Linked DNA regions of Homo sapiens. The protein of the gene in region 3 purifies or fractionates together with the protein of the main gene of each other region. This does not show direct contact. Each region holds a gene or a part of one and is shown on either strand. Other genes may lie near its edges. The genes, in order: COXFA4, ZDHHC5, ALDH3A2, BRAT1, DYM, INTS12 and IPO13.

Region 1 (2,855 bases), on a different chromosome or scaffold from region 3:
TTTGATTTATCACTCTGAAGAACAGGGTCCCCGATCAGTGTGTGTCCAGCACTGCTTGACAGGTGTACATCTATGATGGATTATTACTCATAGCAACGTTTTTTTGTTGTTGTTGTTGGAGACAGAGTCTCACTCTGTCGCCCAGGCTGGAGTGCAGTGCCATTATCTTGGCTCACTACAGCCTCCACTTCCCAGGCTCAAGTGATTCTCTTGCCTCACTCTCCTGAGTAGCTGGAACTATGGCACGCACAACCACACCCAGCTGATTTTTTGTGTTTTTAGTAGAGATGGGGTTTTGCCGTGTTGGCCAGGCTGGTCTTGAACCCCTGGCTTCAAGTTGATCCGTCTGTCTCAACCCCCCAGTGCTGGTATTACAGACGTGAGCCACTGTGCCCGCAGCCTGATAGCAACTTTTAACATCACCCTTTGTGGATTTCACGTTTTCCCCTTAACCTGATTATAATTTGGCTTCTAAATCCTTCAGTAAATCTCCTTACAAGAAGAAAATAAAAATGCAATGGCTAAGCTGAAACATCGATCTCATCTGTGTTATATTTTGCCTCTAAAAAGATAAACGGGCATCCTGATTTGTTTTTATGTCTTATGACATTGTTTATGAATTTGTTTAAACTAAGTCCATTCCAGAGAAAATAATTCCACATACAAGAAACTTTTAAAAAGTAAACAAACAAACAAAAAAACTAGCAGGCTTTGATTCTTCCACCAAAGAGCGTATTGGAATCTATGGGTATGTGTAGTTCAAAAAGTGTAACAGATGATTCCGATAATGCAGCCAGTCTACTAATGTTCTGAAATATCACAACACATGCCAATATGAGGCCTTGGGAACCGAAAATGAAATGTTGCTGTAACAACATAGCTGTTAATAGCTATGACACTGATAGCAGAGTCTGGAAAGATGAAGAGTGTCATGTTATGAAATGACAGAAATGAAAAGGAACCAAATCCAGAAACTTGAGAAGCTGGAGTAAATGAAACCTACTTAATACTTTTTCTAAACCCATTCAGGTAGACTAGATTATTATCTCCATCATTCACAATCTCTCACCTAAGAGAATATGTTTTTCTGGCCCACTGACATCAGATTTGATTTGTGACTTGCTGTGGGAAATTATGAGTTGGAGGAAATGATACCTGCCACTCTTGGACCATTATGTGGTCCCTCCGTTCTTTTGCTTCTCTCATGAGACCAAAATTGACAAGTAAGGGCTACTTATTCACCTTAGAATTGGAATGAAACAAATATGGAGCAATCAGCATACAGATGGCATATAATGTGAGTGAAAAGTGAACTTTTGTCGTTGTAAGCCGCTAAGATTTGAATGTGTTAATTTGGGCTGCCGTAACAAGATACTGTAGACCAGGTGGCTTAAACAACAAATTTATTCCTCAGTCCGGAGGCTGGGAAGTCCAGATCAAGGTGCCAACCAATTCTGTTCCTCATGAGGGCCCAATCCAGTTGTGTCCTCACAATATGGAAGGAGAGGAGTGAGCCCTCCTGTAAAGGCACTAGTTAGAGTGTTCCACCCTCATGACCTAATTACCTCTCAAAGGCCCAGCCTCCAAATACCATCACCATTGGCGTTTGAGGTTACAACATGAATTTTGGGAGGACATAAACATTCAGTCCGTAGCAGAGGATTATTTGTTGCCATGCTATAATCTAGCAAAAGCTATGAATAAAACAGCAAGAGACAGGACCAAAATAAGATTTGAGCATTAAAGGCCCAGCAATACTTCTCAACTGAATAACAGTTGAAGCTCCCCAAAGCTAAGATCAGAATATGTTGTGCCTTCCCAACTATTGTTTCAGAGACTCTAAAAGTAGCCAGCATTAAACTGAGAAAAAGAATAGAGGTAGGGAAGTTGAAAGCAGGTTTTAAAATTCTAGAGAGAATTTTGGATATGAAGCAAGTAAATCAGGAGCCTGCTTAGTTTTAAGAAAATTGGCAACAATGCCATGAATGTGCTTTTGACTCTGCGTGGGTGTAGGGCCTTGATCCTGCAAATCGTAGAACTTGATCTCAATTACCTCTTTTATAAATTAAGAATCAGAAGGGTTATTGTGATGATTAACTAAGATATACATAAAGCATCTAGCCCGGTGCCTGGGCAGGAGCCCAACAAGTGTTTATTTTCCTGTCCTTAATATATACCTGCAGACCCTTCTGTAAATTATTTCTGATATTTTGTTAATATGTTAGAGGATAGCACAAGTAGTTTCTTTTTCTTTTTTTAACCTTATTGTCTAGGTTAATTGTTTCTTAAAAGAACACTGTCAGAACAAAGAATACTGCTTTATGGATTATTTATAATTTTCTGTCCATAAAAGTCTGTATCTGTCTGTATCTCAACGATAACTTGGTAATAAGCTTTACAACCTGAGGATTTTTTTTGTCAGTAAAATACTTAAGAGTTTTTCAGAAATAAATAAGTTCGGGTATATTTGAAGAAATAAAAGGGGTTTGAAGAAAGAATGAATATAGATTTGTGAACTTCATGCTTAAAAACCCTGAAGAAAATGTTTATCATTCTGAAATTGTGGTTCTTTTGGAGATAAATAACATAGTCTTCAAGTAATTATAGCACAACCTCTTTAGCATTCTTTGGCACAAGAATGAGTAAACCCAAGATTTTAGCCTTATTTGGGCTTGTGTACAAGCATTAATATGTCCTTAGTAGAAACTCTGGACCAGTTTCAAATATGTCATTTTTTTTTAAGTTACTGAGAGAGGGAGTTTTTTTTTTTTTTTTTTAAAGCAATCACAGTAAGATTTATTTCTAAAAATTAATATTAATTGATTATAAAGAAATGTTGGAAATGTAAACAGCAA
Region 2 (3,500 bases), on a different chromosome or scaffold from region 3:
GAGATTATTGGGGTGGAGGCAATTATACACAAGTTAAATCTGAGGTAGGAGGGAAGGAAAACTCCCCATATTTAGCTTTAGAAGCCAAAAGATATTCTGAAAAATGTGGGTCACATTGTCTAAAGAGTCAGCAAAGTAATACTGATGTATTTCTCTAGTTTTTAAAGAAGGAGAGAAAGAATCACTATCTAAGGCATGAACACCATCCTACTTCTCACCTCCTCTGAAGCAGAGAAGTTGTAGATTTTTTGGCCCCCAGCTCTGAGCTTGAGCATACCTGCTGGAGTCTCTCAAGGATCTAGAGACAGTGCTGCTTTTCTCTGACTTAATATTTTCTTCATAACCTTTTCCTCTTGCTTAAACTCAACATGTTCAGTGCTCTGTCCTTCTTCATACATTTACTACCAGAAAGAGGGGTGAGTCTTTGGTGTCAGAACTTGTTTTGGTTTTTGCTAATATGGCCAGGAAGTAGAATCAAAATTTTAACTAAGGGACATTTATATTATATCTTAGTATCCTGTAGCAATTTTGGTTCTGGGTCAAGAGGGGTATGTACAAGACCAGTTTGACACCCTTAACTCTGCTCAATTGGGGAGGGTCTATTTTCCTTTAAGAGGCAAAGCCTTTGGAGAAGGAAATTGAGGGGACTAAATGATTTCTGTCTTTCAAGCTCCCTCTTCTTGAGATAGAGCAAGCTGAATCCTTGTTTTTAATTTGCTAATCTGGAACCATTGAAGTGTTTGACTGGTTATACCAGTTTGCCTACAAAGAGTTGTCCTGACATAGGCATTTTCTCAACTGATAGTTGAAGCTGTTTAACCTACTTTCTCATTCCCTGGTGCCAGTAAAGTAGGAGCCCTCCTTATTCCATGGTCTCTTAGCTCTAGGAAAAAGGATTTTGGAGGACAATATTGACCTTATTTGGAATTATTGCCTCTCATCCAAAGTTAGAAGAACCCTAAGTCATAGCTGGAGTTCCTTCCCCCTGGCGCTAGTTTCCACAGGACCAATTTCTGGGCTCCATCTTTTCCTAAGCATCTCCCCTAGTCACCTTGTGGGGGCACAAACACACTGTTTATCTTACTCTAGCACCTAGCTCGGGTAATTCTGAAATTCTCATCTCCTCTTCTCCATCTGACTAGAGTATTTCCTCTGTAAGCATATATCTGGGCTGAGGCACCACTGTTCTTAAAAACTATCCTCTCATGTATTTTACCTCTTTCGAGGTTCAGTTCCCTGGAGAATCCCCTGTTTAAAACCATACAACCTAAAAAAGAGTTCAGGGTTTCAAATGGAGAGGCAAGAGGAAAACTCTCTGAACTAGCTCCTATGTGGGGCTGTAAATCTGTAACTACTCTATCATCCTCCTATTCTCTTCACTAGGCTACAACTAGCTACATTATTAGAAGCCCCAGGTGAGAATTACTTTGGGATATAGAGGAATGCGAGTAGGAGGGAGAGTCCCTTTCAGGTAACAGACATAATTAGTGGAGGCATGTAGACTTCAACTAGTTAGGAACAATTTACCTTCCATGTTTCTTTGTTAAGTTGGGGAAAGCTATGAGCAGAAATTACTAGTTGAGTTTGCATCAAAGAAATAGTGATCTGCCCCAGAGAATCTTGAACAGAACAGTTCAGGCCTTCCTCCTGGAACTCTAATCCCTCTCATTCCCTGAATTTGTCCAGCACTAAAACTAAGGAATGGTGGGGATCCTGTCTTAATTCTTCTCTGTTTTCACTATTTGGGAGGGAGAGTGTCTGCTGAAGTAACCTTCTACCTCCCAGTTAGTTACTAGACTTCATTTAGGATAACTACTTGGATGCTTATCTATCTTAGTTTAATCTTGTTTTTTGACTGGCAGAGGGGCAGTCCTAGGTAAGTGGGATAAGCCCTCTTTGGGGGAGGTCAGGAGATTGATTCTGGTGAAGTCTGTTAACCTTTGTGGACCTAAGTTCTTCCTGTTTACAGTGAGAACGTTGACCTACAGCAGTTTGTTTAAGCAACATGACCCTTTTTCAAATGAAATCTTATATACAAAAAAAAAAACCAACATAAAAATTAGGGCTGCTCTGGTTCAAGTGAGGCTGGCATATAGAGGCCCAGCCCCTTGGTATCGCCTCTTTACCGTGTAGGATCTCCTGAGACCTAGTGCTCCTGGTAACACCATTTCGAATCACTTTGAATTGTATCTTGTTTAAAGTCTCATCAAACTGTGAATTAGTCCAGTTAAGGTCTTATTTTATCCATTTCTAAAGCTGGTGGGAGGGGGCAGGATAAGATCTCTGCTTCACGTGATTTTTTTTTTTTTTTTTTTTTTTTTTTTTTGAGATGGAGTCTTACTCTGTCGCCCAGGCTGGAGTGCAGTGGCGCGATCTCGGCTCGCTGCAAGCTCTGCCTCCTGGGTTCATGCCATTCTCCTGCCTCAGCCTCCCGAGTAGCTGGGACTACAGGCACCCACCACTACACCCGGCTAATTTTTTGTATTTTTAGTAGAGAAGGGGTTTCACCGTGTTAGCCAGGATGGTCGTGATCTCCTGGCCTCGTGATCTGCCCGCCTCAGCCTCCCAAAGTGCTGGGATTACAGGCGTGAGCCACCACGCCCAGCCCCTATTTTATCCATTTCTAAAGCTGGTGGGGAGGGGGCAGGATAAGATCTCTGCTTCACGTGATTTTTTTTTTTTTTTTTTTTTGAGATGGAGTCTTACTCTGTTGCCCAGGCTGGAGTGTGGTGGTGTGATCTCGGCTCACTGCAACCTCTGCCTCCTGGGTTCAAGCGATTCTCCTGCCTCAACCTCCTGAGTAGCTGGAATTACAGGCGCCTGCCACTAAGCCCAGCTAATTTTTGTATTTTTAGTAGAGTTGGGGTTTCACCATAATGGCCAGGCTGGCCTCAAACTCCTGACTTCAGGTGATCCACCCACCTCGGCCTCTCAAAGTCCTGGGATTACAGTCGTGAGCCACCGCACCTGGCCACTTCACGTGATCTAAGGGAAGGATAAAGTCAGAGTTGTATGGAAATCCATGATGGTCTTTTCAGGCTCCCATCCATTATATAGTTTGCGGCTTTTCAGTTTCTGCCTCAGTCCTCTTCCAACCCTTTTACCCACAGGAAGTTGGCCGACCTCCATGGAGTTCTCTCTGGTCCCCCCTCCCCCGTAACTGCAGAGGTATTAGCACCTGATTTGAGTGGGAGCAGCCTTGTGATTTAGCACATTAATGGAGCAGTGGTTGTGCCTTTTCCTTCTCACATTGTTTTCTTATCCAGGAATAAGTGCCCAGGTCCTACGTCTCACATTCAGCTGGTTGAAAGTCTGGGTACCACAAATCAGGTGTTTTCAGAGAAACTGGGTTGCCCACCTGTAAAGGGAGAAATTGTTTTCTCATGGAATCTTGAGGAAAGGATTTCTAAATGAGGATCCCCATGGGCAGGAAGTGGAACATTCATTTCAGCCTTCTCTCATCAACAAGGAACACTAGTCATATGCTCAAGCAATATGCT
Region 3 (3,500 bases):
GATCATCTTACCTGAGCATGGCTATGCAGAGGAAGTAGACACTCAGCCCAAATTGTTTCTCTGACCTGAGGAAGATGTGGGCAATGGATTTGGAGTGGCAGTTTATATACCCCCTGGAAGTGGTGCTGCAAGAAGCTGTCCCCAGCCACATTGCCAAGATAACCTATTAGAAACTGGGGGTAAAGGAAAAGTGCCAACTTGTTATTGTCAGATGACTTCTCTTTTGGTTGACGAGCCAGTTTCTTACTTACAGCATCTTTTGGAGTACTGCTAGTTGGTGACTTACATTGGCAGCAGATGCTGGGACACTTTGTCTAGCCTCCCCAGCATCTGTTTCACCCTCCTTTCTTGTGCCTCTTCCCCATGGTAGATGGAACAGTGGACTAAGGTTTAGGGAATTTTGACCATTTAAGTCTGTTTTCTTAATCTGTCTAACAGAGTTATAATAAAGGTTAATGAGATCATATATATGAAAGCACTCGAGTTAAGAAAAATAGTATTGATTTGATTCACAGAGGAGCTGTCTTTGCTCCTAGAAAGACCTGTCCATTCGAGACCAGCCTGACCCAACATGGAGAAACCTCATCTCTACTAAAAATACAAAACTAGCCGGGCGTGGTGGTGCATGCCTGTAATCCCAGCTACTCGGGAGGCTGAGACAGGAGAATCACTTGAACTCCAGAGGCGGAGGTTGCAGTGAGCCGAGATGGCACCATTGCACTCCAGCCTGGGCAACAAGGGCGAAACTCCATCTCAAAAAAAAAACCTGTCCACAGAAAAATGTTAAGTATAATCTACAGTTAAATACATGCATGGCTGTGAACAGGGTTCAATGTGAAAAAGATATATTTGAGTGTGTATCGTTCCCTTGGTTTGCACAAGTATCCGCAGGGTTGTGATTCACAGGCTTTGGAGACATTGAGTATGTGCACAGTTCATCCACGTGCTCAGGATTTTTCAATAGATATGACTTGGGTGGGAGAGGGAAAGGCATGGATAAGTGACCCAATGAAAGAGATGTAATATGAGAGTTGTGCATTTTTGTCTAATAAGCATTTTCATTTTGTTTATTTTCTTTTTAGCCCCAACAGTACTTACCGATGTTGATCCTAAAACCAAGGTGATGCAAGAAGAAATTTTTGGACCAATTCTTCCAATAGTGCCTGTGAAAAATGTAGATGAGGCCATAAATTTCATAAATGAACGTGAAAAGCCTCTGGCTCTTTATGTATTTTCGCATAACCATAAGGTAAGCTTTAGAGAGAACAGCTAGTTAGCATAAGCAACTGTCAAGAGTCATGTTCCTTCTTTGCTGTAAAACAATGCAAAAAACAATGTGAAACAATGATGGTTTCTTTTGTGTCATGTCAGAGTCCATCCACTAAGTGAGGTTGTGTTCCGAGGTTGCTGTCTTGGTTAATGAGACTCTGGGGTTATCACAGCATCCATTCCCCTCCTCCCTCGGGTTAGATCTGAGTCTGCAGGGTTGAGTGTCACAAGGTTTTTGATTCACAAACATCTCCTGTATAATTGGAAGACTTATATGTGCCAGCATTAAATGCTTTTCTGATGTTAATCCACAGGGCATTGCTGAATAACAGCCTGCACAAAATGGCATTCACACCCACTGTGTGGGACAAAGACCCCGACACTGTCACATAAATGGTTGTGATATGATGGATTTTAGTTTCTAACATGACGCTAGCTTCTTGTTAGAGTGGTGGAACTGCATCACCTGGTTGAGCAGTTCTGCCACTTTCTGCATGGCTCACTCATTCATGTCACTAGGTGACCAGCCGCTACTAAGAGACCATGGCCCAAATGTTTTCTGGAGAGCTTCTGATGGTAATGTATAGATAGTCATGTGACAGCTTTTGGAGCTTGTGAGACTATTGAGATACAGATAGCTACAGGTATTTGAAGTGAGACCAAATGTGTGGGGCTCAGTAAAGACTGGGTTATTAACAAAACAATGGTTTGACATTTAAAACCATGGATAATGTGGGCAGGAAGGAACCCTGAAGCCGAAAGTAGGCTGGCCAGGGTATAAGTCAGGTGTGGAGCACTTCCCAGCAGTGGGTCACCCGAGGTCACTATAGTCCAGACTTGACGTTTGCCATGAACAATTGTCAAGGGCTTGCTGGCACCCAAGGGTAAATGACGTTTACTAGTCAAGTGTTCTTGTGCTTTTCTGAGCCTTAGGCCAAACAACCATTTATTTCTTAAAAAATAGGATGCTAAATCTAAAGTCTTAAATATTTTTACATTTCATAAAGACTAAATAATACCTATTAATCATGTGTTATAATTTAAAGCAGAGATAAGAAAGAAATAATAACAGTTTTTAAAGCTGGAATATAGTCTAAGCTGTCCCCTTTTAAAGAGTCTTTTGCTGCTGTGTTGGGGAGTACAACTCCAGGTTGTGGCTGAGTAGGCCCAGAGGTTTGGAGCTGCCTCCTTTTGTGCACTAGATGTGTGTCTGAGAAGTTGGGTATCAGTCACTTTGCTAAATTAACCAGTTGAGATTGTTTGTCTATCTGGCATGGTGTCCCCAAACTCGAGAATTTTCACTGACACAAAGCCAGAATGTGCATGCTTTGAGCACATAACTGAGCACACAGCCCTCTGTGTGGTGGGGCCATGAGTGTTCCCTAAGGGGCAACTTCACTGACCTGGACACCTTTGGTCTGTCCTCAGCTCATCAAACGGATGATTGATGAGACATCCAGTGGAGGTGTCACAGGCAATGACGTCATTATGCACTTCACGCTCAACTCTTTCCCATTTGGAGGAGTGGGTGAGTCTTATTTTCTCCTGCTTGTAGTAGATATTTCAAAAGCACCACCATTTCATGAGTGGATTGTATGGGCTGCTGAAATAGCCAGCTGTTGCGTACCCTGATTGTCCTCTCCTGAGGGAGACCTTTTCCTGGTCACCCAGTTGACTGGTTTTCCTGCTTCCCCACCCACCCCTCCAGCATAGGGCAAATGTCTTGTCACTCTCTTTCTGTCAGCAGCACTGACTGACCACAGCTTTGTTCACTTCGTTGATTTTGTTATCCTGCCACATTTAGGAGATTTGGGAACCAAGAATCAGGTCTCAAATTAATTAAGAAGATCTCTCTTCGTGTGTGTGTGTGTGTGTGTGTGTGTGTGTGTGGTGTGTGTGTTTAATGAAGTAGCAAATGAAAGGTTCGGAATACCAGGGACAGAAGGTAGAGGGGTTTTCTAATGTGCCTTTGTTTTCTGCTCAGTTCTTACCTGCATTGTTCCCCAGCCCTTTGTTGGGAGGAGCAGCCTCTCCTTGAATTGTTTTGTGATTTGAGTAAAACGGGACTCCCCCTGTTCTAGAGAGGATGGGCAGAAAGAAATTCATTCCAAGTGAAGCTTTGTGGACATAGCCTGATCCTTGCTTTTCCCTTTAGAACATGACCTGCCTGCCTCTCCCACATGTGAGATGACTGACTCAGCTTTTTATTTCTCCTTTGGGACCTAGGCTAG
Region 4 (3,500 bases), on a different chromosome or scaffold from region 3:
CGATCTCCTGGGCTCAGGCAGTCACCTGCCTCTGCTTCCCAAAGTGCCTTTTACCCTCTTTGAGCTAAATATCTAGGTCTTCCTTGTTTTCTAATATATATATTTAAGGCCAGGCACGGTGGTTCATGCCTATAATCCCAGCACTTTGGGAGGCTGAGGCAGGCAGATCACTTGAGGTCAGGAGTTGGAGACCAGCCTGGCTAACATGGTGAAACCCCGTCTCTACTAAAAATACAAGAATTAGCCTGACATGGTGGTCCATGCCTGTAATCCCAGCTACTCGGGAGGCTGAAGCAGGAGAATCACTTGAACCTGGGAGGCAGAGGTTGCAGTGAGCCGAGATAACGCCATTGCACTCCAGCCAGGGCAATGGAGTGAGACTCTTGTCTCAAAAAAAAAAAAAAAAAAAAAAAAAAAATATATATATATATATATATATATATTTAAGACTATGCATTTCTCTAAAAGTATGACTTTAGCTACATCTTACACGTTTTACATTGCAGTACTTTGGTTTTAATTTAGTTCTGAGTATTTTATGCTTTTCATTATAATTTTTTTTTCACCCACAAGTTACTTAAAAGAGTATCCTTTAGTTTCAAAATATGGATTTTTCCAGTCTTTTTATTATTGATTTTTAATTTACTTTGTGGAGGTTAGAAAACATAACATATGTTTTGAATCTTTATAGCTGTTGAGACTTTTATTGAGACATAGGACCCAGGCGAGTTTTCTCAATGTTCTAGAGATTTCACTATATGATTTTGATGTTTTGGTATTTGAAGGTCTTCAACTGTGGCCTAGTTTGTAGTAGTCAGTTTTTCTTTTTCTTTTTTTTTTTTTTTGAGCCAGGGTTTTTGCGCGTCACCCAGGATGGAGTGCAATGGCGTGAACACGGCTCACTGCAGCCTTGACCTCCTGGGCAGTCCGCCTGCCTCATTCTCTTGAGTTCCTGGGATCAAGGTGTGTACCAGGCCCAGCTATTTTTTTTTTTCCCATAGAGATGAGGTCTCACCATCTTGTCCAGGCCAGCTTGGAACTCCTGGGCTCAAGCAGTCTTCCCGCCTGGGCTTCCCAAAGTGCTGGGATTACAGGAGCGAGCCACCATGCCTGGCCTGTATTTAAATTTTAAGAAGTATTTTTCAGTAGCTTTATTGAGATATAATTTGCATACCATGCCATTCTCCCATTTAAGGTGTACCAGATCCTTTTACAGTTTGTAAGCATGAGATATATATATATCTATATATAGATATATATATAGATATAGATTTTTTTTTTTTTGAGACCAAGTCTTGCTCTGTTGCCCAGGCTGGGGTGCAATGGCACAATCTTGGCTCACTGCAACCTCCGCCTCCTGGGTTTCAAACGATTCTCCTGCCTCAGCCTCCTGAGTACCTGCGATTAAAGGTGCATGCCACCATGCCCGGCCAATTTTTGTATTTTTAGTAGAGGTGGGATTTCATCATGTTGGCCAGGCTGGTCTCGAACTCCTGACCTCAGGTGATCCCTCCACCTTGGCCTCCCAAAGTGCTGGGGTTACAGTGGAGAGCCACTGCACCCAACCTAAGCATGATAATTGAGTGTTCAGGCGCATGTGTGAGATGTGGCACCATGGAACCCTGGTATGATGTCGGTACGTGACCCGTCTGACATGAGAAATGGACAAAATAAATAAATAAATGGTACCAATTCAACAGTTCTTAGTAAATTTACAGGGCTCTGAAATCATCAGCACAATCTAATTTTGTTCCCCCTAAAGAAACCGAGTCTGGGTTCACAGTGAGTCCCTGTTTCCTCCTCCCTCCCAGCCTCTGTCATTTCTCCTGCATTGTACTTGATGGAAAGAGTGTAGTTTCCACACTCGTTCATTAGTTCAGACCTGCTATGTTCTTGCTAATTTGTTTGCTTGTTTCTGAGAGGTGTGTAAAAAGCTTACACCAAGATCATGGATTCATGATTTTTCTTTGAGATGCATCCTTTTTTTTTTTTTCGCTTTACATATTATTTTTTTCTTTTTCTTTTCTTTCTTTTTTTTTTTTTGTTTTTTTTTTTTTGAGATGGAGTCTTGCTCTATTGCCCAGGCTGGAGTGCAGTGGCATGATCTCGGTTCACTGCAGCCTCGACTTCTTGGGCTCAGATGATTCTCTCACCTCAGCCTCCCTAATAGCTGGGACCACAGGAGCCCGCCACCACGCCCGGCTAAGTTTTTGTATTTTTTGTAGTGACGGGGTTTCACTATGTAGCCCAGGCTGGTCTCAAACTCCTGGGCTCAAGCAGTCTGCCCGCCTTGGCCTCTCAAATCGCTGCAATTACAGGTGTGAGGCACTGTGCCTGGCATTTTTTTTTTCTTTTTTTTTTGGAGACAGGGTCTCACTCTGTCACTCAGGCTAGAGTGCAGTGGTGTGATCACGGCTCACTGTAGCCTCAACTTCCTGGGCTCAAGTGATCCTCCCACCCCAGCCTCCTGGATGGCTGGGACTACAGGGACACACCACCACACCCAGCTAATTTTTTGTATTTTTTTGCGGAGACGGGGTTTCACCACGTTGCCCAGGCTGCTTTACACGTTTTGAAGTGAGGTTAGGTATACATAGATGTAGGAATGTTGTGTCTTTCTGGAATTTATCTCCGTGATCAGTTAACTTACTTCTGCATGAATACTGCTTTTTGCTTTACAGCCCATTTTGTTTGCTATTTCTGTTGCTACATCAGCTTCTTTAAAGTTAGAATTTGCCTACTGTGTCTTTTCTCTCCTGCTCCCAGCCTTTCCTGTCGTTGCATTTTATTGCTTTTAGAAACACCACATTGCTTGTTTTTAGTGTTTAATTTAATCTCAGCAACTCTTTCTTTTAACAGATAAGTTTGATCTCTTTAATTTGTTGAGGCGACTGTTAGATTTGAATTCTTTTGTATTTTTTAATTTCCTGTGCCTTACCTTTGTGCCTTTATCCTCCTTTTCTGCCCTCCATCAGATTGATAAAGCTTTTTTTTTTCTTTTAAATCTTTCCTCTTCTGGTTTTGAAGTTATACATTCTATTTATGTTCTTCTTTTTAGACAAGTTCTTGTGCTGTTGTCCAGGACAGTGGTGTAATCACGGCTCACTGCAGCCTTGACCTCCTGGGCTCAGGTGATCTTCCCATCTCAGCTTCCAGTGTAGCTGGGACTATAGATGCGCGCCACCATGCCCAGCGAATTTTTATAGAGAGGGGATCTTCCTGTGTTGCCCAAGCTGGTCTTAAAACTCCTGGGCTCAGGCAATCTGCCCACCTCGGCCTCTCAAGATGCTGGGACCACAGGCTTATTTGTGTTCTTCAGTGGCTACCCTTATATTTTTAACATGAGAACCGGATTTTTTAAAAAGTCTGAAGTTAATTAGACTTTCCATTCTCTATCCAGGCAACCGAAGGACCTCAGAGCACTTGAACTTCAGGCCATCACAACCTTCTATTATTGTCGTTAGTATTTTAATTCTGTTTTGTTTCAAAACCCTTCAACA
Region 5 (3,500 bases), on a different chromosome or scaffold from region 3:
TAAATATATTTCTTTTTCTTTCTTTATTTTTTGTTTTTGAGATGGAGTTTCGCTCTTATCGCCAAGGCTGGAGTGCAATGGCACGATCTTGGCTCACTGCAACTTCCGCCTCCCAGGTTCAAGCCATTCTCCTGCCTCAGCCTCCCTAGTAGCTGGCATTACAGGTGCCCGCCACCATGCCCAGCTAATTTTTTGTATTTTTAGCAGAGATGGGGTTTTACCATGTTGGCCAGGCTGGTCTCAAACTCCTGACCTCAGGTGATCCACCCGCTTTGGCCTCCCAAAGTGCTGGGATTACAGGCGTGAGCCACTGAGCCTGGCCTTTTAAACATATTTCTATCAGTAATAACTCCTTAAGATATCTGGTAGAATTTAAATTTTTCTAGTTCTAGAATCAAGTCATCATTAATTTGTTTAATGAGCTTTCATTTAAGTAGGTGTTAAGTATTTTTCTTTGTTTTTCATAATTATTTCATTTTTATAAAAATATTTTAGTATTCTTTTGGTGCTATTGCTCTTTTTACTGCGTTGTTGAGGTTTCTACTTCCTTGGTCTTAACATGTTCCCCATTATAATCCTGTTTAAACTTTTGCAGTAACTGGAAATTTCTGGATGCCTTTATTCCTCTGTGTGCTTTCTGTTCAGCTGAATCTTTTTCTTTTTATTTGATCTAAGACTTGTTTCCCAAAGGGGTTTATGATCTTGAGAGGACAGAGTAACCCTTCATAATCAAAATATGCTTAATAAAACAGGAATAACTTGTTTACTGTTAATATTTTGCTGAACATGCAAAGTTGACCTTGAGAAAGGTAGGCACTAGAGACACAAGATCTAGGGTGTATTATTGTTCTGATTGTAAAGTGATCATCAACATGAAAAGGCATTGTTTTCTTCCCTACACTGTACCTTCTCTTCAGCTTTACAATCTGAGTATTTGTCTCTGTATTATCACTAAACAGAAATGAACATAGATGTCTAGAGTGAATCTTCAAAACAGAACACTGCTAGTAACTATTTCCATTATACATAAATAGACTTGTCATTTAATAGGAGATGGAAACTGGAAAATAGGGAAATAAAGGGATAACTAACCCAAATACACCAGCTAATGACAGGGAAGGAGTTTAATATTTTTGCTTGACTTAATTTTTGTATTAAACGTATTAACATTTTTCAGTAACCTGAAAATACTGAATATTTAGATTTGAGTTTTTAAATGTATAGTTCATTTAGAAAAGAATAGTGTCTTAATCTTCCAAAGTGACTGTTACTCTGTTTTTCTTCCATTTTAGAGATATTACATATGAAATATCAGTAGAAGCTATATCAACAATGGTTGTTTTCCTTTCCTGCCAACTCTTCCACAAAGAAGTTTTGCGACAGAGCATCAGCCACAAGTATTTGATGCGAGGTCCATGGTATGTTTCTACTTTAAGTATGTCTAGTTTTTTCATTGTATAAATCTATATTTCTAGTCTTGTCCTTTTACCTGAGTATCGTCCCATATCTCCAACCAGGTATTTCCTCTAGTTGTTCTATTGTCTCTTTAAACCCAGTGCATAGGGAACCGCATTCTACTTTCCTGTGCCATCTACCCATCCTCCCTGTTCTTCCTGTCCCGTAGCTTCATTACCTTCTCCAGTGGTTGCTTCGTAGAATTGAAACTTTGAAATCATCTTTTTCTTCCATCTCCTTCATTCTGTCTATGTTTAAGCAGTCAAGTCATATTTGTTATTCAGATTATTTTTGTATCTTCCTCTTCTCAGCAGTCCCTTTGAAACACCTGTGATCTATGCCCCCTTACTCTCTTTGGACTTCTCCAGCAGCCTCTTCGCTGACTATTCCTACTTCTTTGAGCCTGCAAATATTTGCTGTGTGCTATCCATGTGCCAGGCATGTTAGACTGTGGGGCTATGCTCTTGAGCAGAAGCTTACGATCTCCTAGAGGGTGTGGATGCAAATGACCAACACATATGCACATACCTGACCTTTTATTAACATAATCTTCACAAAACTTTAAAAATGTAAAACAAATCCAAATAAAGTACCTTTGAGGAAAGTTCTCAGATAGTGGGGAGCTTTGTCTTCTTCATATTCTTTTTGCTACCCTGATTATTCCTGTGGCATGTATGTTCTTTGAACATATTTGAAAATCACTGAGGGAAAGGATCTGGGCTTTGGAGTCAGAGGTTTGCATTGGAACCCTCTCTGACAGAGACACTCAGAATGACACTCAGAATGACCGTGGTTTGAAGTAGTGCTGGCATCGTGGGACTGTGTGCATCTTTGCTGAAACAAGATTGTGAACTTCATCCCTTATAGTGCCAGAGTATTCAAGTTGCTTTTTAAAAATAGACATAGAGGGTGTTAGTGTTCTTATTTTCTAAGTAAGGTTTTTATAGTATCATTATGGTGCCACATATTTAAACCGTAATATGTTCTTTACTTATTTTTGGGGTTCATCTTGGAAACCATATTTAAAAAGCTCAATAGTACATTAAAGAATCTGTTAAAAAGTTTACTCTATATTGCAGGAATTAGTTTAATACCAATTGAATAATTGAATAATTTCATACTTAAAAAGTGTAGTCCTATTGTTATTTTTAAATTCTTGCTTTTTTCTACTGATTCTTTATTACTACTTCCCTTCAATTGCCAGATAATGTGTTATGCACTAAATTTATAATAGCTCACAGTGTTATACCGAATGTAGATAAAGTAACTGGAGTTCAAGAGTTCAAGTGGGCTGGGCACGGTGGCTCACGCCTGTAATCTCAGCACTTTGGGAGGCTGAAGCGGGAGGATCGCTTGAGTTTAGGAGTTTGAGACCAGCCTGGGCAACATAGTGAGACCTTGTCTCTACCAGACCTTGTTTCTCCCCACTGCAGAAAAAAAGTATTTAAGTAATTTGATCAATATCTTATGATGTGATAAGAGGAAAAGCAAGGATTAAGCCTCAAAATTGCTCTCAAAGCCCATGGTCTTCACTGTTGTGTGCAGTGCTCAATTTCTGTGAGTTGTGCCAATAGCCCTTTTGTATTAACAGATAGTGTTAATGGCAGAATTATTTCTGTATTGTTATTCAGAATTAGATGACTCCCATAAATATGAGTTTGATTTTTTTTTCCTTTTTGTATAGTCTTCCATACACCAGCAAACTTGTGAAGACCTTATTATATAACTTTATCAGACAAGAAAAGCCACCTCCTCCAGGGGCCCATGTTTTCCCTCAGCAGTCGGATGGGGGAGGACTGCTTTATGGACTTGCATCAGGAGTAGCAAGTAAGTTTTATCAGATTTTTTCAATTCTTTGGTGCACATAAATTTTATCTATTTAGGCATAAGAAATTCTGTTTGCTTGGCTGCCACCATTAATAGTTACATTGAATTTGTGCAGCTGGTTCAATGTGAAAACAAAGTAATTAAAATATTAATCTTTCTGTTTTGTGCGGTGATTTATGTAAAATGTATGCAAATAATGAATGGATTACCTACAAAAC
Region 6 (3,500 bases), on a different chromosome or scaffold from region 3:
CAGTGGCATGATCTCGGCTCATGGCAAGCTCCGCCTCACGGGTTCATGCCATTCTCCTGCCTCAGCCTCCCGAGTAGCTGGGACTACAGGCGCCCGCCACCACACCCGGCTAATTTTTTGTATTTTTTAGTACAGACGGGGTTTCATCATGTTAGCCAGGATGGTCTCGATCTCCTGACCTTGTGATCCACCCGCCTCGGCCTCCCAAAGTGCTGGGATTACAGGCGTGAGCCACCGCGCCCAGCCAATTTATTTCTATTTCTATTTATTTTTTAAAAATCTATTCATATACAGAGTGATAATAGTGTGTTATATAATTGATCTTTAACCTCAAGGAGCTTTATCTTCAGCCAGTGAAATCTGAAACTTGCCACAACTATTGTCCTCTTTTATTACAATCAATTCTCCTTTCTGACTACAATCTTCCATTACTCTATCTCTTCCACTGCCTTAATCCAGGGACCTCTTCAAAGTGCCAAGTCAATCTTTCTTCTGTATTTATTCATTTCTCTATTCCCATTCTACTTGTTCTTTGTTACAGAAGCCTCCAATTTCTTGTCCCTTCTGCTTTCTCCTTATTGGCACCCTCTTGCCCTGACTTTTGTTTCCTCACCAAACAGAAAACAGTAGTTGAACCTAAAATAAAACACTTATGGTTATGTGGTTTATATTTTATATTTTAGTTTTCTATCTTACCTTTACTCCCCCTTTTCTGTTGCCTTCTCTAATCTCTGTTACTTTTCCTTCCTTACCGGCAAATATCCATATAGTGAAAGAAGTTTACTTTCTACAGCAGTCATAAAGAGGTCAGCAACTTGGTGTAACTGTGTTGATCTACACATACAAAAATATTTTCCTGGAGTTACACCAAATCATGTTACTTCTATACAATTCCTTTCCTGTATATTCATTCCTAAACCCATGGCCAAAACAGACTGCAAAAGAGCCATATCATTCTTACTATGGATTAGAGTTCTAGAAAACAAAGTCCTGTGTGTGTGTATGAAAGAAAAATGTATATATGAAAGATATTTAATATATTAAATGTAGGTTTCATTTAAAAAGTAGATGTTGCTTTCAAAAAGGAGAATGTGAGAAAATTAATATTTACCACTTTAAAGCTTTCGCTGACCTAGGGAAGTGGTAGTAGTAGTATTGATAGGAGTGAATTCTTAGGTGATGCTGGGAATTAGCTGTGTCAAATGCATATAGCACAAAAATCGCCATTACTGAACAATGATCTTTTTTCTGTATCTCTTATTATCCTTGATTTATTGCAGTATGCCGTTTACTTCCTATCCAGCTCACATTCTGTGGTCCACCCTTTCAATACCTCTTTCAGTACTCTAGGCACCCGAAAGCCCTGTAGTTTCCCTACTTTATAGACATCCACCCTGCTAGCCATTCTCTCTCTGCCTGCACCCAAACTCTAAGTGCAACTGGGAGGAATATACATACATTCTATCTTCAGAATCACCATTCTCAGCTTGGCGTTCAGTACAACTTGGCAATTCTCTCATCCTTCTCTGGTCAACTCACTTCCCCACTTTCTGCAAAGATCAGTTATACTTCCTCCATTTTCTTTTAAAATTGCTTCTGTGTTTCAGTAGATGGCCTCACCTACTTCACAAAGAGAGGCTGTCAGAGAGGAATTAAGTCGACTTCCTTCCAGCACATCTACAAACTTACCTGCACTCATCCTTTCCTCTTTCCCATCTGATAAAAAAGGAGAAGGTAGCTCTCTATGTAGTGTCACCTGGATCTGGATCCTATCTCTTCTTGTCCCCTCTTGAACCTTGGCCTATGGATTATTTCCCATATCTTCTTTTTTTTTTTTTCAGCCTTTCTACTGGCATCTTTTCATTGACATTAAATATATTCAAACATCTTCTATCTTTTCTCTTTTATAGCAAAACGTTCTCAGAAATCATATGCTTTTGTACTCTTTTTCTTCATTCCTTCTATTTACACAGCAATTCTTGCAATTCAGCCTTTGTCCCACTATTCCATGAAAATGCTCTCATGAGTCATTCGCCGCCTCAGTCAGGTAAACCTAATACATACGATTGTCCCTCCTACTTCTTTGTCAGTCATCTTTGTAGGTTCCTCCTATCCAATTAAAAATGAGTTCCTCAGTGCTAGGTTCTGGGTCTCTTCTTGACTTGTTCTACATCTTCTTCCAAAAATGTGTTCTCTGAGTCAGCAGCATAGGTATCACGTCAGAACTTAGAAATACAAACTCTTGGTCTCCATTCCTAGGCCTACTGAAGAAAAAACTCTGGGAGTAGGGTCTAGAAATCTGTGTTAAGCCTTCCAGGCAATTCTATCTACTCTAAAGTTTGGGAATTATTGCCCTAGACAATTTGATCTATATAGTCTTTTGCCAGTGATTACTAATACATCTCTGCAGTCCATGTGTCTCTCCCAAGATCCAACTGCCAGCTTGACATGGATATATCATTGGTGCCTCCTATGCAACGTGTCTCCAACAGAGCCACTCATACACTATTCCCTTTTCTCCTAACCAGTTCTTCCTCTAGTAATCCCTTTTTCAAATGATATTTACCCTATTGCCCAAGCCAGTAACCCAGAAGCAGCTTTAACTCTTCCCACTTCCTTAATTCCCACCCCCAATTCAATAACCAAACCTCTTAAACATACCTCAAATCTATCCACCCTTTTCAATCCTTACTACTACCACCCTAGACCAACCTAGCATCATCTATTATCTGGCCCACTGCAAAAGCTTAATCAGTCTCCCACAATCACTCTTGTCATCCCTTTAAACCTTTTCATATCACTCACTTGCTTAAAATCCTTTTATCACTTCTCACAATCCAAAGGTTCAAGAATAAGATTCTTAACAAGGTCTCCAATTCTCTACATCAGGGGTCCCTAACCTTCAGGCCATGCAGCAGGAGGTGAGCAGTAGGCAAGCGAGGGAAGCTTCATTTGTATTTACAGCCACTCCCATCACTTGCATTACTACCTGAGCTCTGCCTCCTGTCACATCACTGGTGGAATTAGATTCTCATAGGAATGCGAATCCTATGTGAACTGTGCATGTGTGTGATCTACGTTGTGTGCTCCTCATGAGAATCTAATGCCTGATGATCTGTCACAGTATACCCCATCATCCCCAGATGAAACCGTCTAGCTGCAGGAAAGCAAGCTCAAGGTTCCCACTGATTCTACATTATGGTGAGTTGTCCAATTATTTTATTATATATTACCATGTAGTAATAAGAGAAATAAAGTGCACAATAAATGTAATGCACTTGAATCATCCTGAAACCATGTCTTCAATGAAACTGGTCCCTGGTGCCAAAAAGGTTGTGGACCATTGCTCTACATGATTAATAATACATATAAAGCAGTTACAACAGTACCTGACACATAGTTGACACTCATTAAATGTTACCTAGTATCTTAGGCCATTCTCACTCTCTCTGTTATAGCTATCTGACTTATTTCAAGTCCTCCAATATACTCTTTCTTAC
Region 7 (2,287 bases), on a different chromosome or scaffold from region 3:
CTGCTGGCAACCTAGAGCCTGCGAGACATCTGGCCCTGATGGAGGGGGAGGGAAAGGTGTCTGGAACCCAAACTTTCTGCATTATGATCCCCACCCCCAACCTCTCTCACGTACACCTGCGTGTTCATGTACACATACATGTACATAGCATCCCTTGAGCTGTCCTCACCTGACCTACTGAACTCTGAGGTGGTCCGGGTCCCCCAGAGATGGCTGGGTAGCTGGTTTTGGCAGCCTCTACCTGTGAGGTGTGAAGTTGGGGGCTGGGGTGGCAGGTGAGTGGGGGGGATGGTCCTTGGAGCTGGCTGGGGCTGGGCTTACCAGCTCCACCTCCTGCAGGCTCTGAAGCGGAAGCCAGATTTGTTCCTGTGTGAACGATTGGATGTCAAAGCTGTGTTCCAGTGTGGTAAGTGGGGCGAGATGGACAGGTGGGCCTGGGGCTCCCCTAGAAGGATCGTTAAACTGATCTGCCTCTGCCTTTCCCACAGCTGTGCTGGCCCTCAAGTTCCCTGAGGCACCTACTGTCAAGGCCTCCTGTGGCTTCTTTGTGAGTCCCATGCTGAACCCTGACCCACTGCCACCCCAGTGCCCTCCCCTGCCCAGGACTTCAGACAGTAGGGCTGGGGTGTACAGGTCTTGTCCTCAGGGAGAGCTGGGAAGGAGCTGGGCTGATGGGCCTCTCCATCCTCTGCAGACAGAGCTGCTGCCTCGGTGTGGGGAAGTAGAGTCTGTGGGAAAGGTGGTACAGGAAGACGGTCGTATGCTGCTCATAGCAGTGCTGGAGGTGAGACGGAGCAAAGGGGGGTTTGATGGGGGTGAGGGCCCCTCACTGCTGAGGCAGCTGGCCTTCTGGGAGGCTTGAGCCTTTGGTCCCCTAAGCTCTCAGATTCTGTTTCTTCTTCAATTAAATGCCTGAAAGTTGTTAGGATTGCTGTGGGGATCAGCTGGCTCTCAAAAAGCAGCGCTCACTGTGATGTGCAGTTTGGCTTAGGAACTGTCCAGAGGGCAGTTAGGCATTCTTGCTGCAGAAGCGGCGGAAGGGGCAACACCCTGGTGTGCTGAGAACCCCTCTCCCTCAGGCCATTGGGGGCCAGGCCTCCCGCAGCCTCATGGACTGCTTTGCCGATATCCTGTTCGCCCTGAACAAGCACTGCTTCAGCCTCCTGAGCATGTGGATCAAGGAGGCCCTGCAGCCACCTGGTTTCCCCTCTGCCCGCCTCAGCCCTGAACAGAAGGATACCTTCAGCCAGCAGATCCTTCGGTGAGCAGAGCTGGGGTGGGCCTGGGGTCAGGCAGAGAGGGGGCAGTGGTGGTGGCTGGTGCTAACCTGCTCTCCCTTTTCTCCTTCAGCGAGCGAGTGAACAAGAGGCGGGTGAAGGAGATGGTGAAGGAGTTCACACTGCTGTGCCGGGGTCTCCATGGCACAGATTACACAGCTGACTACTGAGGGGTGCCCCCATCCCATCCACCCCTTCTCTTCATCCTTCCCTATTCCCAAAGAGTAAACCTGGACCCTCACTGCTGTCTCTGCCTCCTTTCTGCTGTCACCACCACCTAACTGAAAGCCTGGGTCCAGAAGGCCTGGGGGAAGGATGGGAGGATGCTTGGACCCAGGCCTTGGGAGGGAATGGTGGGAACATCCTCTAGCTCCCAGGTTGGAAGAGATACTACTGTAGCCAAGCCACCTAGGCTGGAGCCCTTCAGAATACTGTCATTGTCCTTGGGGCGGGGTGGTTGCAGTAGTGTCATCAACCCCCCCATCCCCATTAAATTAATCCCAACATGCATGTATGCATACATTTATTTAATCAACACCGCCGAATATTAGGCCCCTAGCTCTGTCCTGCGTCGTTCTGCCCTGAACAAAGGTTGATCTAGTCCATAGCTACCATGGAGAATGGTAGGAAGTGAGGGAAGGCTGCATGGAGAAAGTTTTTGACAGGAATAGTAGGCTTTCTAGGTAGAGGACTTGAGACTTTGGGCTGCAAGTGGGGTAGGGCTGGGTCCGTTTAGGAAGGAAGAAATGGAGTGGAGTTTTGACTTCCGGGAGGGGTTTCTGGTGTGGAGTTATACAACATCGAACTTGCATATGGTTGAGGAGGGCTATAGAAAGGGGCTGAGTGTGTGTGTATTGGGGGGTGGGTGGGTGGCAGGGAGGTGAAGGAGAGAAGATATCTCAGCCGCAGAGGAGAAAAGAGGAAAGTAGGACCTAAGGTTGTCCATATGTCCGCTGCTCCCCGCTTACACAGGACCTCCAGCACAGGATGGTCAGGGATCAATCAGCACC

The links.
Region 1: the proteins of ALDH3A2 (region 3) and COXFA4 purify together in Homo sapiens (co-immunoprecipitation; one large-scale study listed by IntAct). This does not show direct contact.
Region 2: the proteins of ALDH3A2 (region 3) and ZDHHC5 purify together in Homo sapiens (co-immunoprecipitation; one large-scale study listed by IntAct). This does not show direct contact.
Region 4: the proteins of ALDH3A2 (region 3) and BRAT1 purify together in Homo sapiens (affinity purification with mass spectrometry; 2 studies listed by BioGRID and IntAct, with this or other methods). This does not show direct contact.
Region 5: the proteins of ALDH3A2 (region 3) and DYM purify together in Homo sapiens (affinity purification with mass spectrometry; one large-scale study listed by BioGRID and IntAct). This does not show direct contact.
Region 6: the proteins of ALDH3A2 (region 3) and INTS12 purify together in Homo sapiens (affinity purification with mass spectrometry; 3 studies listed by BioGRID and IntAct, with this or other methods). This does not show direct contact.
Region 7: the proteins of ALDH3A2 (region 3) and IPO13 purify together in Homo sapiens (affinity purification with mass spectrometry; 3 studies listed by BioGRID and IntAct, with this or other methods). This does not show direct contact.

Annotation. Positions count from the first base shown.
Region 1 is NC_000007.14:10,934,299-10,937,153, reverse strand, and holds part of COXFA4 (cytochrome c oxidase subunit NDUFA4), read left to right. Parts: intron 1-2,855. UniProt on the Homo sapiens protein: Component of the cytochrome c oxidase, the last enzyme in the mitochondrial electron transport chain which drives oxidative phosphorylation.
Region 2 is NC_000011.10:57,674,614-57,678,113, forward strand, and holds part of ZDHHC5 (palmitoyltransferase ZDHHC5), read left to right. Parts: intron 1-3,500. UniProt on the Homo sapiens protein: Palmitoyltransferase that catalyzes the addition of palmitate onto various protein substrates such as CTNND2, CD36, GSDMD, NLRP3, NOD1, NOD2, STAT3 and S1PR1 thus plays a role in various biological processes including cell adhesion, inflammation, fatty acid uptake, bacterial sensing or cardiac functions.
Region 3 is NC_000017.11:19,662,251-19,665,750, forward strand, and holds part of ALDH3A2 (aldehyde dehydrogenase family 3 member A2), read left to right. Parts: intron 1-1,082; coding exon 1,083-1,249; intron 1,250-2,697; coding exon 2,698-2,797; intron 2,798-3,500.
Region 4 is NC_000007.14:2,549,025-2,552,524, reverse strand, and holds part of BRAT1 (integrator complex assembly factor BRAT1), read left to right. Parts: intron 1-1,559; exon of another isoform or gene 1,560-1,655; intron 1,656-3,400; exon of another isoform or gene 3,401-3,459; intron 3,460-3,500. UniProt on the Homo sapiens protein: Component of a multiprotein complex required for the assembly of the RNA endonuclease module of the integrator complex.
Region 5 is NC_000018.10:49,331,646-49,335,145, reverse strand, and holds part of DYM (dymeclin), read left to right. Parts: intron 1-1,292; coding exon 1,293-1,418; intron 1,419-3,139; coding exon 3,140-3,282; intron 3,283-3,500. UniProt on the Homo sapiens protein: Necessary for correct organization of Golgi apparatus. Involved in bone development.
Region 6 is NC_000004.12:105,702,190-105,705,689, forward strand, and holds part of INTS12 (integrator complex subunit 12), read right to left. Parts: intron 3,202-3,500; exon of another isoform or gene 3,125-3,201; intron 1,621-3,124; 5' UTR 1,459-1,620; intron 835-1,458; exon of another isoform or gene 697-834; intron 1-696. UniProt on the Homo sapiens protein: Component of the integrator complex, a multiprotein complex that terminates RNA polymerase II (Pol II) transcription in the promoter-proximal region of genes.
Region 7 is NC_000001.11:43,966,236-43,968,522, forward strand, and holds the end of IPO13 (importin-13), read left to right. Parts: intron 1-339; coding exon 340-406; intron 407-488; coding exon 489-547; intron 548-694; coding exon 695-784; intron 785-1,079; coding exon 1,080-1,261; intron 1,262-1,350; coding exon 1,351-1,447; 3' UTR 1,448-1,787; downstream 1,788-2,287. UniProt on the Homo sapiens protein: Functions in nuclear protein import as nuclear transport receptor. Serves as receptor for nuclear localization signals (NLS) in cargo substrates.